Linked DNA regions of Homo sapiens. The protein of the gene in region 2 purifies or fractionates together with the protein of the main gene of each other region. This does not show direct contact. Each region holds a gene or a part of one and is shown on either strand. Other genes may lie near its edges.

What was found.
Region 1: the proteins of UTP4 (region 2) and DNAAF10 purify together in Homo sapiens (co-immunoprecipitation; one large-scale study listed by IntAct). This does not show direct contact.
Region 3: the proteins of UTP4 (region 2) and DCAF10 purify together in Homo sapiens (co-immunoprecipitation; one large-scale study listed by IntAct). This does not show direct contact.

Annotation. Positions count from the first base shown.
Region 1 is NC_000002.12:68,147,512-68,151,165, forward strand, and holds part of DNAAF10 (dynein axonemal assembly factor 10), read right to left. Parts: intron 57-3,654; coding exon 1-56. UniProt on the Homo sapiens protein: Key assembly factor specifically required for the stability of axonemal dynein heavy chains in cytoplasm.
Region 2 is NC_000016.10:69,160,118-69,163,771, reverse strand, and holds part of UTP4 (U3 small nucleolar RNA-associated protein 4 homolog), read right to left. Parts: intron 3,417-3,654; coding exon 3,310-3,416; intron 690-3,309; coding exon 594-689; intron 1-593. UniProt on the Homo sapiens protein: Ribosome biogenesis factor. Involved in nucleolar processing of pre-18S ribosomal RNA. Part of the small subunit (SSU) processome, first precursor of the small eukaryotic ribosomal subunit.
Region 3 is NC_000009.12:37,838,672-37,842,325, reverse strand, and holds part of DCAF10 (DDB1- and CUL4-associated factor 10), read right to left. Parts: intron 238-3,654; coding exon 40-237; intron 1-39. UniProt on the Homo sapiens protein: May function as a substrate receptor for CUL4-DDB1 E3 ubiquitin-protein ligase complex.

The DNA.
Region 1 (3,654 bases), on a different chromosome or scaffold from region 2:
TGCTGTAAAGATGTTGCACCAAATGTTCCACATTTAATAGGTTTGGCCTTTTCAATCTTCATAGAAGGGAGGAAGAGAGGATATATTATTTATGTAAGCAGATATTTATAATCTATTAATATCATATTTATGGCTCTATTATGGCATTTAAATAAGACAATATAAAAGGCAATTAAAACATCTTCTGATGAAAATAATCTTGCTTTTTCCTTTACTCATTTTTCTTTAAAATATGTAACTGTCAAAAAGAAAAAGTGTTAATTTGCCTTTCCTCTCCTCTCACTAATGAGACATTCAAATGCTGACAGCTCTACAATCTCTATTGCAAATATGAAAGTTTCAGCATTTCATGTGATATTCTTTAAGATCCTCAGCAGAAATGAGAACATAATGAAGATATTATCTTTCCAGATGGTTATGGGAACAAAAATGTTATGTGTCTCTTATAGTTTTCCCTGCAGAACCCTATAAACTAAAGATGTTTATGTCCCACTTTCTCTGGGGCCTTTTCAATGCAGAGAGATTTATAAACTTGTGTGTACCAAGGCGCTACTATTAGTATGGATCAGCCAATCTTTTGAGGTTTCTTTACTTTAAAAGGCTACTGCACCAAGTATTGTATATAGTCACATTAGTAAAACAATCACATACGAATATATTATTTAACGTATGGGGTTTATGGAAATCAGGTGAAGAAGACTATGTAGCCAAAAAGGTCCTTGGAAAGGATCTAACACAATACCCTCCTGTCATAAAAGGAGACCAAAGCATAGGGCTGTACAGATTTGCCGAACTCATACAACATTCAACATTTAATGGTTTCTACTACATGCAAGTCACTGAAGTAGGCAAAAGAGGATACAAAGATGAATGAGATTGGCCAGTCCCTCAAAAAGCTAACAACTCAAATATCAGTTCTTATCTGGTTCCTCCAAAATATACATATTCGTTATACTACTCCTATGCCTCCCTGGGTCTTCTATTCACCTTCTTTTACTTCCTGATGTTTCTGATTTCTCCATGGCCCCTCCCGCCGCCAACTCTACCTGCCCAGGTCACTGAAGTCCCTCCTACAGTCTAACTGCTTTTCCTGCTGCCTTGGCTCCCGAGATCTCCGGAATCTGGAATTAGATGAGGCCACTGATATCTGTCCCACATCACACTCTTGCCATATAACACTTCCCACTGACTGTCAGCCTCAATGGGGCAAAACTATTCCTCTTGGTCTCTAACAATTTTTACATTTTTAAATTCTTAATGTTTATAAAAGTAATACCTGCTCCCTATAAAAATTCAAACAAAACAAAAGGATGGAAGGAAAAAGTGAGTCCCTTTAACACTCTCCAGAAGTAATCCCCACCCTTCTAGGCCTTCTACGCATTTACAAACACACATGGTTTTGTTTCAATACAAGGCAGATCATGGTACACTGTCCTTTGATGTGTTTCACTTAACAATACATCTGGATAAACTTTATTCCTTTTGCAGTGTTCTCCAGTTTCCAGGACATCTCCCCTTGTAACTCTTCAGTTCTCTTCATCCCTCCCAGGTTGGCCTGTTTCAAATAATTTTAAAAATAATTTCCCTGCCACTTTCAATGTTTATCCAGGCATTTCTATATAGGGTATATTATCCATATAAGGTATACATAGCAATTTTCACGAATAAAATAGAAGTCACTTAACACAAACTATAACAACTTTTTTTCTCTGATTCAAAGGTTACCATTATATGGTATAGGGCTTTGGAAACTCCCAGACTGTTGAACTTTCCTATTGTTTGTGATCTAGATAAATTGGAGTTACTACGTGGCCAAGTCTAAAAGCACTCATACCTTCCTCAGAATTGTCTAGTAAACGAAATCAGCCACGTACAGTAACATGTTTGTAAAAGACCCTATTGATGAGAAGCATGGAACCACAGAATGTTTCTCTTTTTAATGCACAAGTGGACTGAGATGGCATCAGTTATTCACTGCCGCAGAAAATTAATATTCATTTATTCCCATTTTTTCCCAATTTTATGAAAAAGAGTATCTGAAAATGGGGCAACACAGAGGATCAAAATTTTGTCAACAAAGCACATGGTTTCTAACTGCAGGCAATTTATGTTTTCCTCACCATTCCCCTCTCCTCAAATAAAAGTACCTGAAATAATATATTAACAGTGGTAAAGCACTTAATCACTATTAGGGCACAATTTCTATGGTGAAATTAATTCTGAGTTCCAACCTATGCCAACTGGTGAGACGGCTATCCACTCTTTCCTCCCCTTGGTCTCACACTGAACCTGGGTCTTGCCAGCTCTAAGCCACTGATAATGGCTTCCATGTTCTGAGGCAGAGGGTGGAAGCAGACCCTCTGAGGTAAGAAGCTGGTGGTCCTCATGCACAGCAATGTGGTTCCAGGAGACAGGGGATTAGAAGCTGTGAAGAACTTGCATCATCTATTGACCCAATTCTCTGGGAACATTTTTCTCAGAGAAGCACTGGGAAGACTGGTCTCCCATTTTCTTCCCACCAACCAGCTAAAGCATTCTGCTTCCCAGAATTCCACCGCTGTCCCCTCAAACCTCTGATGAGGGTTTCTGTGATTCCTAGGCCATGGAAGAGGTAAAAACTAACCTACACTCTTTGGTTCCCTACAGTCTTCTAAAATTTTACTGCTGGATAAAAATAAAAAACTGGAAGCAAAAACTTTCCTCCCTGTTATTCTTTTACCCAACTTTCACTTTTAGACCCTTTAGACTAGAGAATCTCAAACTATACTCCTGGAACACACTGATCTTCTGTTACTAACATAATACATTAATCAGAAAATTCACCAAGAACAAAAGCTGATGCATGTGTTGTTTTCAGATTTTAAAGTTTTTTTAAAAATAATTTTCTTAGCTTGCCTGGTAGAAAATACTAGCAAATGAACACCAGTTAAAAAAACTTGGACTGTGTGCAGTGGCTCACGCCTATAATATCAGCACTTTGGGAGGCTGAGGCAGGCGGATCACCTGAGGTCAGGAGTTCAAGACCAGCCTGGCCAAAATGGTGAAACCCCCTCTCTACTAAAAATACAAAAATTAGCCAGGCGTGGTGGTGGATGCCTGTAATTCCAGCTACTGGGGAGGCTGAGGCAGGAGAACTGCTTGAACCCAGAGGGCGGAGGCTGCAGTGAGCCAAGATCACACCACCGCACTCCAGCCTGGGCGACAGAGAGAGACTCCGTCTCAAAAAATAAAATAAAATAAAAAAATAAAAATAAAAATAAAACCTTGGAAGTGAAGACTTAAAAACTGTGTGGTTACTTGTGATGTAAAAATCGGAATCTCTATCTATTTATCTATCTCTATATATAGTCAGATTTTTCTGCTGAAAATCTCTTCCCTGTGCAGAGATAGAACTGACTACTCCAATATTTTATGGTGTTCCAAAAACAGCACTGCAATGTGCAGATTCTTTGACACCTGCACATGTCTGAGAATTGCTACCTTCAAAGGAAAGAAACCAAACTGACAACCAGTCTACACAATAAGCTCTATACATTTTCACAGTTGTCATTGCATCCCTTCTAAAAGTATGTCTTTATTACAAATATAAAGGAAAGAAGTAAAATGTATCTACATTGAGAAGCACAGACTCACAAGAGTGGCATGAAGGCCTAT
Region 2 (3,654 bases):
AATTTTACAGATGAATTATTGATAACTTCCTAATATAATTATTGATAACTTCCTAATATATTCCGCAGCCCAGGTTTTTTTTTTTTTAAAGATCTCCTTATAATCACAATCTCCTTACAAATTGGTATAGAAAAAAGTAGATTAGGTTCTAATTTTGGCTGAGATTAGGTACCTGATCTTATTAGGGCTTGATTTCCTCATCGGCAAGCGTAAAGGTGAATGATACAATCTTTTAGTCACTTTCAACTCTCAAAATCTTATTCCATCCCATATCCAGTTTAATACCCAAGCCCATGTCATCTCTCCTCTAAAACAATCAGGAAAATGAGTACTTCAAAATTCCTCCTCCCTCTTGTGATTCTTTACTCTAGAATCTTAGTGCTTCTCCATTTAAATTGCATCCCATCAAACCAATGCATACTGCTGGCCTATGATGAGCCCAGACCGGCAAGGAAGCTTTACTTCACACAGGAGAAAACTACCTTATATCCTCCAACACCTTCAAAAAAAAGCTCCCCGCAACTGCCCAATATTCCAGCTTCTAGGTTACTATCCAGCAGGAAGGGAATAGAAAGCACTGGAATCTCCCTTACCTGCTGGTCCGAATGAGCGATGACAAGGTTGTTGGTATTGGGGGCAATAGCCATAGCAGTCACTGGGAAATTGTAAGCAGGCACCGTGCAGTGAAGCTGGGAACAAATAACAGACACAAGTGGCAACTCTAAGTGACACTTTTCCTCAGCAAAGATTGAATGGTCTAGGTCAGGGGTTTAAATACTGCTCCTCATAATTCAAAAGGGTTCTAGGGAAGTTCCAAAAATTTCAGGCATTTCCCCAACCAATGAACTTTCATTTCTTTTTCTTCTCTTTTTTTTTTTTTTGAGATGGAGTTTCGCTCTTGTCACCCAGGCTGGAGTGCAGTGGCGTGATAATCAGCTCACTGCAACCTCTGCCTCCCAGGTTCAAGTGATTCTCCTGCCTCAGCCTCCCAAGTAGCTGGGATTACAGGCGCCTACCACCACACCCGGCTAATTTTTTGTTTTTCTTTTTTTTTTTTTTTGAGATGGAGTTTCACTCTTTCTCCCAGGCTGGAGTGCAATGGCATGATCTTGACTCACTGCAACCTCCACCTTCCGGTTTCAAGTGATTCTCCTGCCTCAGCCTCCCGAGCAGCTGGGATTACAGGCACCCACCACCATGCCTGGCTAATTTTTGTATTTTTAGTAGAGACGGGGTTTCACCATGTTGGCCAGGCTGGTCTCAAACTCCTGACCTCAGGTGATCCACCCACCTTGGTCTCCCAAAGTGTTGGGATTATAGGCGTGAACCACTGCACCTGGCTTAATTTTTGTATTTTTAGTAGAAACGGGGTCTCACTATGTTGGCCGGGCTGGTTTTGAACTTCTGACCTCATGATCCACCCACCTCGGCCTCCCAAAGTGCTGGGATTACAGGCGTAAGCCACCGCACCAGTCCTCATTTTCTTAAAAAAATACCTATTGGTTGGCCGGGCGCAGTGGCTCATGCCTATAATCCCAGCACTTTGGGAGGCCAAGGCAGGCGGATCACGAGGTCAGGAGTTTGAGACCAGCCTGGCCAACATGGTGAAACCCCATCTCTACCAAAAATTAAAAAAATTAGCTGGGTGTGGTGGCGTGCACCTGTAATCCCAGCTACTCAGGAGGGTGAGGCAGGAGAATCACTTGAACCTAGGAGGCGGAGGTTGCAGTGAGCAGAGACTGCGCCACCACACTCCAGCCTGGGCAACAGTGCAAGACTCAATCTCAAAAAAAAAACAAAAGGCCTATTGGCTGGGCGCAGTGGCTCACACCTGTAACTACAGCACTTCGGAAGGGCCAGGGCGGGAGGAACGCTTGAGTCCAGGAGTTCAAGACCAGCCTGGGCAACACAGCAAAACCTCATCTCTACTAAAAAAAAAGATTAGCTAGGTGTGGTGGGACTCGCCTGTAGTCCCAGCTACTCAGGACACTGAGGTGGAAGGATCGCTTGAGCAGAGAGGTCAAGGCTGCAGTGAGCTGTGACTGTGCCACTGCACTCAGTCTGGGTGACAGAGTGAAACCCTGTCTCAAAAAAATAAAAAGCTTATTTAACCGCGTACAAAACTAACAGCGTTTGTGGAGAACTGAGAGTAAAGCCTTTCCCTCTGAGTAAATCCATCTGTACAAACTGCTTATAAATGTGTCATTGAATAGGGAGTCTACAGCTCTACACCAGGTTTAAAATAAATAAATGCCTAGGCATGGATTTTTATGTACAATTGCAAAGCATGTGCACGCTACACACAAACACTCTTTAAATGCCAGGCAAGGCTCAAAGACAAGTGCTCAGTACATGCTCCTACCATAATGCAACAAAGGTTACACTATGCAGTTAACAGGTAAACCCATTAAGTGTTGCAGTTTGATGTTATTCTATACACTTTTAATGCTTATTCCAAGTTTTGGGTAGTTCGAATCTGATTCTTATAATGAAGATGAGGACTTGTAAGGGATCACTAATGACTCAATTTATGACTGACAGCGTCATTACTGATTAGTGAAAAATGTTTTCCCAGTATTCCTTTTTCGAAGTTTTGATTATGTTTACCTTGAGATTACAAGGCAAGCCATGAAAGGAACTCTTATTATCTGCAACTATTTGTCTGTGTATATCAGAATTTTCCTCCCGAAAATACAGAAAGAACCTGGATGTGTTTACATCACCCACAGATCATTAATTTCAAATTTCCAGGTATGAATGGGTTTCACTGTTTCCATTAGCTGCTTTTAATGTTACACAGTATAGCTTCCGGGTTCCATAAAAATAAAACAGGATTCCAAACCTGGAAAAATTATTAGTTAAAAAGAAAAAAGTCTGGCCAGGCGCGGTGGCTCATGCCTGTAATCCTAGCACTTTGGGAGGCCGAGGTGGGCGGATTGCCTGAGCTCAGGAGTTCAAGGTCAGCCTGAGCAACACGGTGAAACCCTGTCTCTATTAAAATACAAAAATTAGCCAGGTGTGGAGGCACACACCTGTAATCCCAGCTACTCAGGAGGCTGAGACAGGAGAATCATTTGAACCCGGGAGGCTGAGGTTGCAGTGAGCCGAGATCGCGCCACTGCACTCTAGCCTGGGTGACAGAGTAAGACTTTGTCTCAAAAAAAAAAAAAAAAGAAAAGAAAAGAAAATAAAAAGAAAAAAGTCTAATAAATTTCCAGGTCATGCCAATCTGCCTTGAATCTTGTAACTGCAGGGTGAACTGGCTCCTGTACAATGATTCAAACTGCTGCCATGAAACCCTATGCTCACCTTTAGCTGTTTTACGTTGTAGACATGGACTCCAGCACTGGTACCTGATGCAGCTAGCCAATTCCCATCTGGACTGACTGCCAAAAGACACATGGCCTCCACTGTTCCTGTGAGGACAAAACAGTTACATCTCTGAATTCACACAGTGTCCACAGCCAGACCTGCCCTGGAGATGATGGCAAAAGCCAAGGAGACCATTAGAGTTTTAAATCACTGCCAGGATAATTTGCTGATCACTGTGCAAATTACTTCTAGATGTTAATGTTTCTACTTTTTTCATCTACTTATTTAACCATCCCGCCTGTAAAGAAGGTCCAGAGAGATAAAACAGAAGTTATTACTTCC
Region 3 (3,654 bases), on a different chromosome or scaffold from region 2:
TTTTGTTCATAATCCTAACATGGTCTCCTATTCACAAACCTGTTAGTGTCCCAAATAATGACATTTCCATCAAATCCTGATGTTACTAAGAGTCTTGTATTAGTATCATATTCGATGTTCTTCACCCAGCTAGTGTGACCATGTAAAGTGCATACTTTGGTGTTCAATTTTCTCAGATCCCATAGTGCTATTGTAGTGTCATCAGAGCAGGTAGCAAACAGCCGGTTATCAAGAAATCTATAAAAGCAGAAAAACAAAACCCTGGTTCATTTAATCTCTTTTTAAAGGAAAATTGATTTGAGAAACAGTCACTATATTACCTAGTCAAGAAAGAAAGAAAAAAAGGACTACACACTCACTATGTAAACCCAATGACTGATATACTATAAAAAGTATACTTTGCATAATCACAGAGCCAGGATACTATGATTTAATGACAGTCATATTGCAATTGGATCCATTTGCTTTAAATTACTGATTTTTATTTGAAATTGGAAATAGGGGTAAGTGTTTGGAAAACAGTGACAGAAGGGAAAAAAAGAACTTCAGAATCTCTATAGGAAACAAAAATGATGAGAGAGAATTTAATAGGCGATAGAGGAAGTTTTGAAGACTTGATTGCCGAGAGGGACACATTACACATAATCAAAATCATGAGAAATATTTGCTCTGCTACAAGGAACATCTTTTTCTATTTAGAACACAGTTACATACAAAAATTGCTATAAAATTGCCATTATTTTAAATCTTTTAACTGAAAGGTATTTCCCAAATAATCTCTTAGCAACATTTTATTAGGACCAATCAAGAAAATTACAAAATAGGCTTAAAATACTCTATAATTCAGACTTTTTATTATTTTACACTAACTTCTCAATCCTTAGTGAGAATATATTTAATACAAATACTTAAAAAATAAACTACTATTCACACTTGAATTTTTGCTTAATTTAACATTAGGATGCTTTCTGTAATACATGCTGTTATCCTAATCTCTTACAGAAGAAATGAATTCTGGTGCTTCTTCTAAGATAAATTTACATATAATTGTCAGAAATCAACCTCAATATCCACAAACACCATAACGACCTTCCTAAAATTGATCACGGTTTTCAAATACCAGGCGTTTACACAGGTTGTTTCTGCTAGGTGAAACAACCTTCCTCCTGCCCCTGGATCTGGCTAATTCTTGCTTTCTTTTTAATACCATCATGTGTCACTTAATGATGGAATACATTCTGAGAAATGTGTCCTTAGGTGATTTTGTTGTTGTGTGAACATCATAGAATGAACTTACACAAACCTAGATGGTACACACTGAGGTTATATGGTATATATGGTATATAGCCTATCACTCATAGGCTACAAATGTGCACAGCATGTTACCATACTAAATACTGTAGGCAACTGTAACACAATCGTAAGTATTTGTATATTGAAAGATAGAAAAAATACAGTAAAAGTACTGTATAAAAGATTTAAAATGTTACGCCTGTATAGGGCACTTACCATGAATGGAGCTTGCAGGCGTGGGAGTTGCTCTGGGTGAGTCAGTGAGTGAGGGGTGAGTCAGTGTGAAGGCCTAGGGCATTACTGTCCATTACTGTAGACATTATAAAGACTGTACACTTAGGCTACACTAAATTAATTTAAAAATTTTTCATCAGTAATAAATTAACCTTCGATTACTATAACTTTTTTTACTTCATGAATTTTTAATTTTTTAAACTTTTGACTCTTTTGTAATAACAGCTTAAACACAAACACATTGTACAACTGTACAAAAATATTTTCTTTCTTTATAGCCTTATTTTATTAACTTTTTTCTATTAAAATGTTTACTTTTTAAACTTTTTTGTTAAAAACAAAGACACACATTAGCCTAGTTCTACACAGGGTAAAAATCATCAATATCACTGTCTTCCATCTCCACATCTTGCCCCACTGGAAGGCCTCCAGGGGCAATAACAGGAACAGAGCTGTCATCTCCTGATAACAATGGCTTCTCCTGGAATACCTCCTGAAGAACCTCCCTGAGGCTGTTTTACAGTTTAATTTTTTTTTAAGTAGGAGTACATTCTAAAATAACAATAATAAGTATAACATAGTAAGTATTAGGCAATAGGAATTTTTCAGCTCCATTATAATCTTCTGGAACCACTGTTGTATATGGTGTCACTCACTGAAATGTTGTTATGTGGCATATAACTGTATTCAGCTGTTATGCCCTCCAGGAAGCCTTCCTTGTTTAACCAGCCTGGTAGACCTACCAATTCTCTGAGCTCCCAAAGCATTCTGGGAGCTTCTATCATAATACTTAATATTATACTGTAAGGAACAACTTTACTGTAAACTCCCTGAAGACAGAAGGAACCTGTCTGCCTAGGGTCATGGTTAGATCTGCAGTATACAATACACATGGTGCCAGACACATATGCACTCAACAAATACTTACAAAATAAATGAAAGAGAAGTTCACTGCCTAGCAGAAAAGACACTGTAAGTACATAATTACACGAAATAATTGTGTGGAATAAGCAAAGAGGGTGGCTGGGAAAGACTTCATGATGTTATCATTTGAACTGAATAAAAGATGAGCAGGAACTCCCTAAGTGGTCAGGGTTACTAAGCAAAGATACACAGGCATGTGAGCGGATGGTGCCCTCTGAGAAGCAGCAGTTAGGAGTGCTGTGTGTGGGAAAGTAGAGATGACTAGGGAATACATTATGGATTTATTCTATGGTGATTACCAGTAACTATTTTTTAATTATAAAAATACATTTCCTGGCCAAGCGTGGTAGCTCATACCTATAATCCCAACATTTTGGAAGGCCAAGATGGATGGATCACTTGAGCTCAGGAGTTTGAGACCAGCCTGGGCAACATGACGAAACCCCATCTCTTATTTTAAAAATAACGATAACAAAAAACATTTCTACTGAAAATATTTTTAATGAAAAAAAATCGGCTGGGCGCAGTGGCTCACGCCTGTAATCCCAGCACTTTGAGAGGCTGAGGCGGGTGGATCACAAGGTCAGGAGTTCAAGACCAGCCTGGCCGAGATGGTGAAACCCTGTCTCTACTAAAAATACAAAAAAAATTAGCTGGGCATGGTGGCGGGCGCCTGTAATCCCAGCTACTCGGAGGCTGAGGCAGAGGCAGAGAATTGCTTGAACCCGGGAGGCGGATGTTGCAGTGAGCTGAGATCGTGCCACTGCACTCCAGCTGGGGCACAGAGCAAGATTCCGTCTCAAAAAAAAGAAAAAGAAAAAAAAAATCCATCACCAAAAATAACCACTTTATTGATGTTTAGCTTAATTTCTGTTTTAAACCTAATATTATCTCAAAAACATATTGCCATTATTAAAGGTTTATTAACAAAATCATGTTTAATGGCTGAATAGTGTTCACTGTATGAAGAACTGAAACCTTTTTTCTTTTTAATTTTTTTTTTTTTGGAGACAGAGTCACGCTTTATCCCCCAGGTGCTCACTGCAACCTCTACCTCCTACATTCAAGTGATTCTCATGCCTCAGCCTCCAGAGTAGCTGGGATTACAGGTGCCCGCTGCGATGCCCAGCTAATTTTTGTATTTTTAGTAGAGACAGGTTTTGTCAGGTTGGCCAGGCTGGTCACAAACTCCTGACCCTCAGG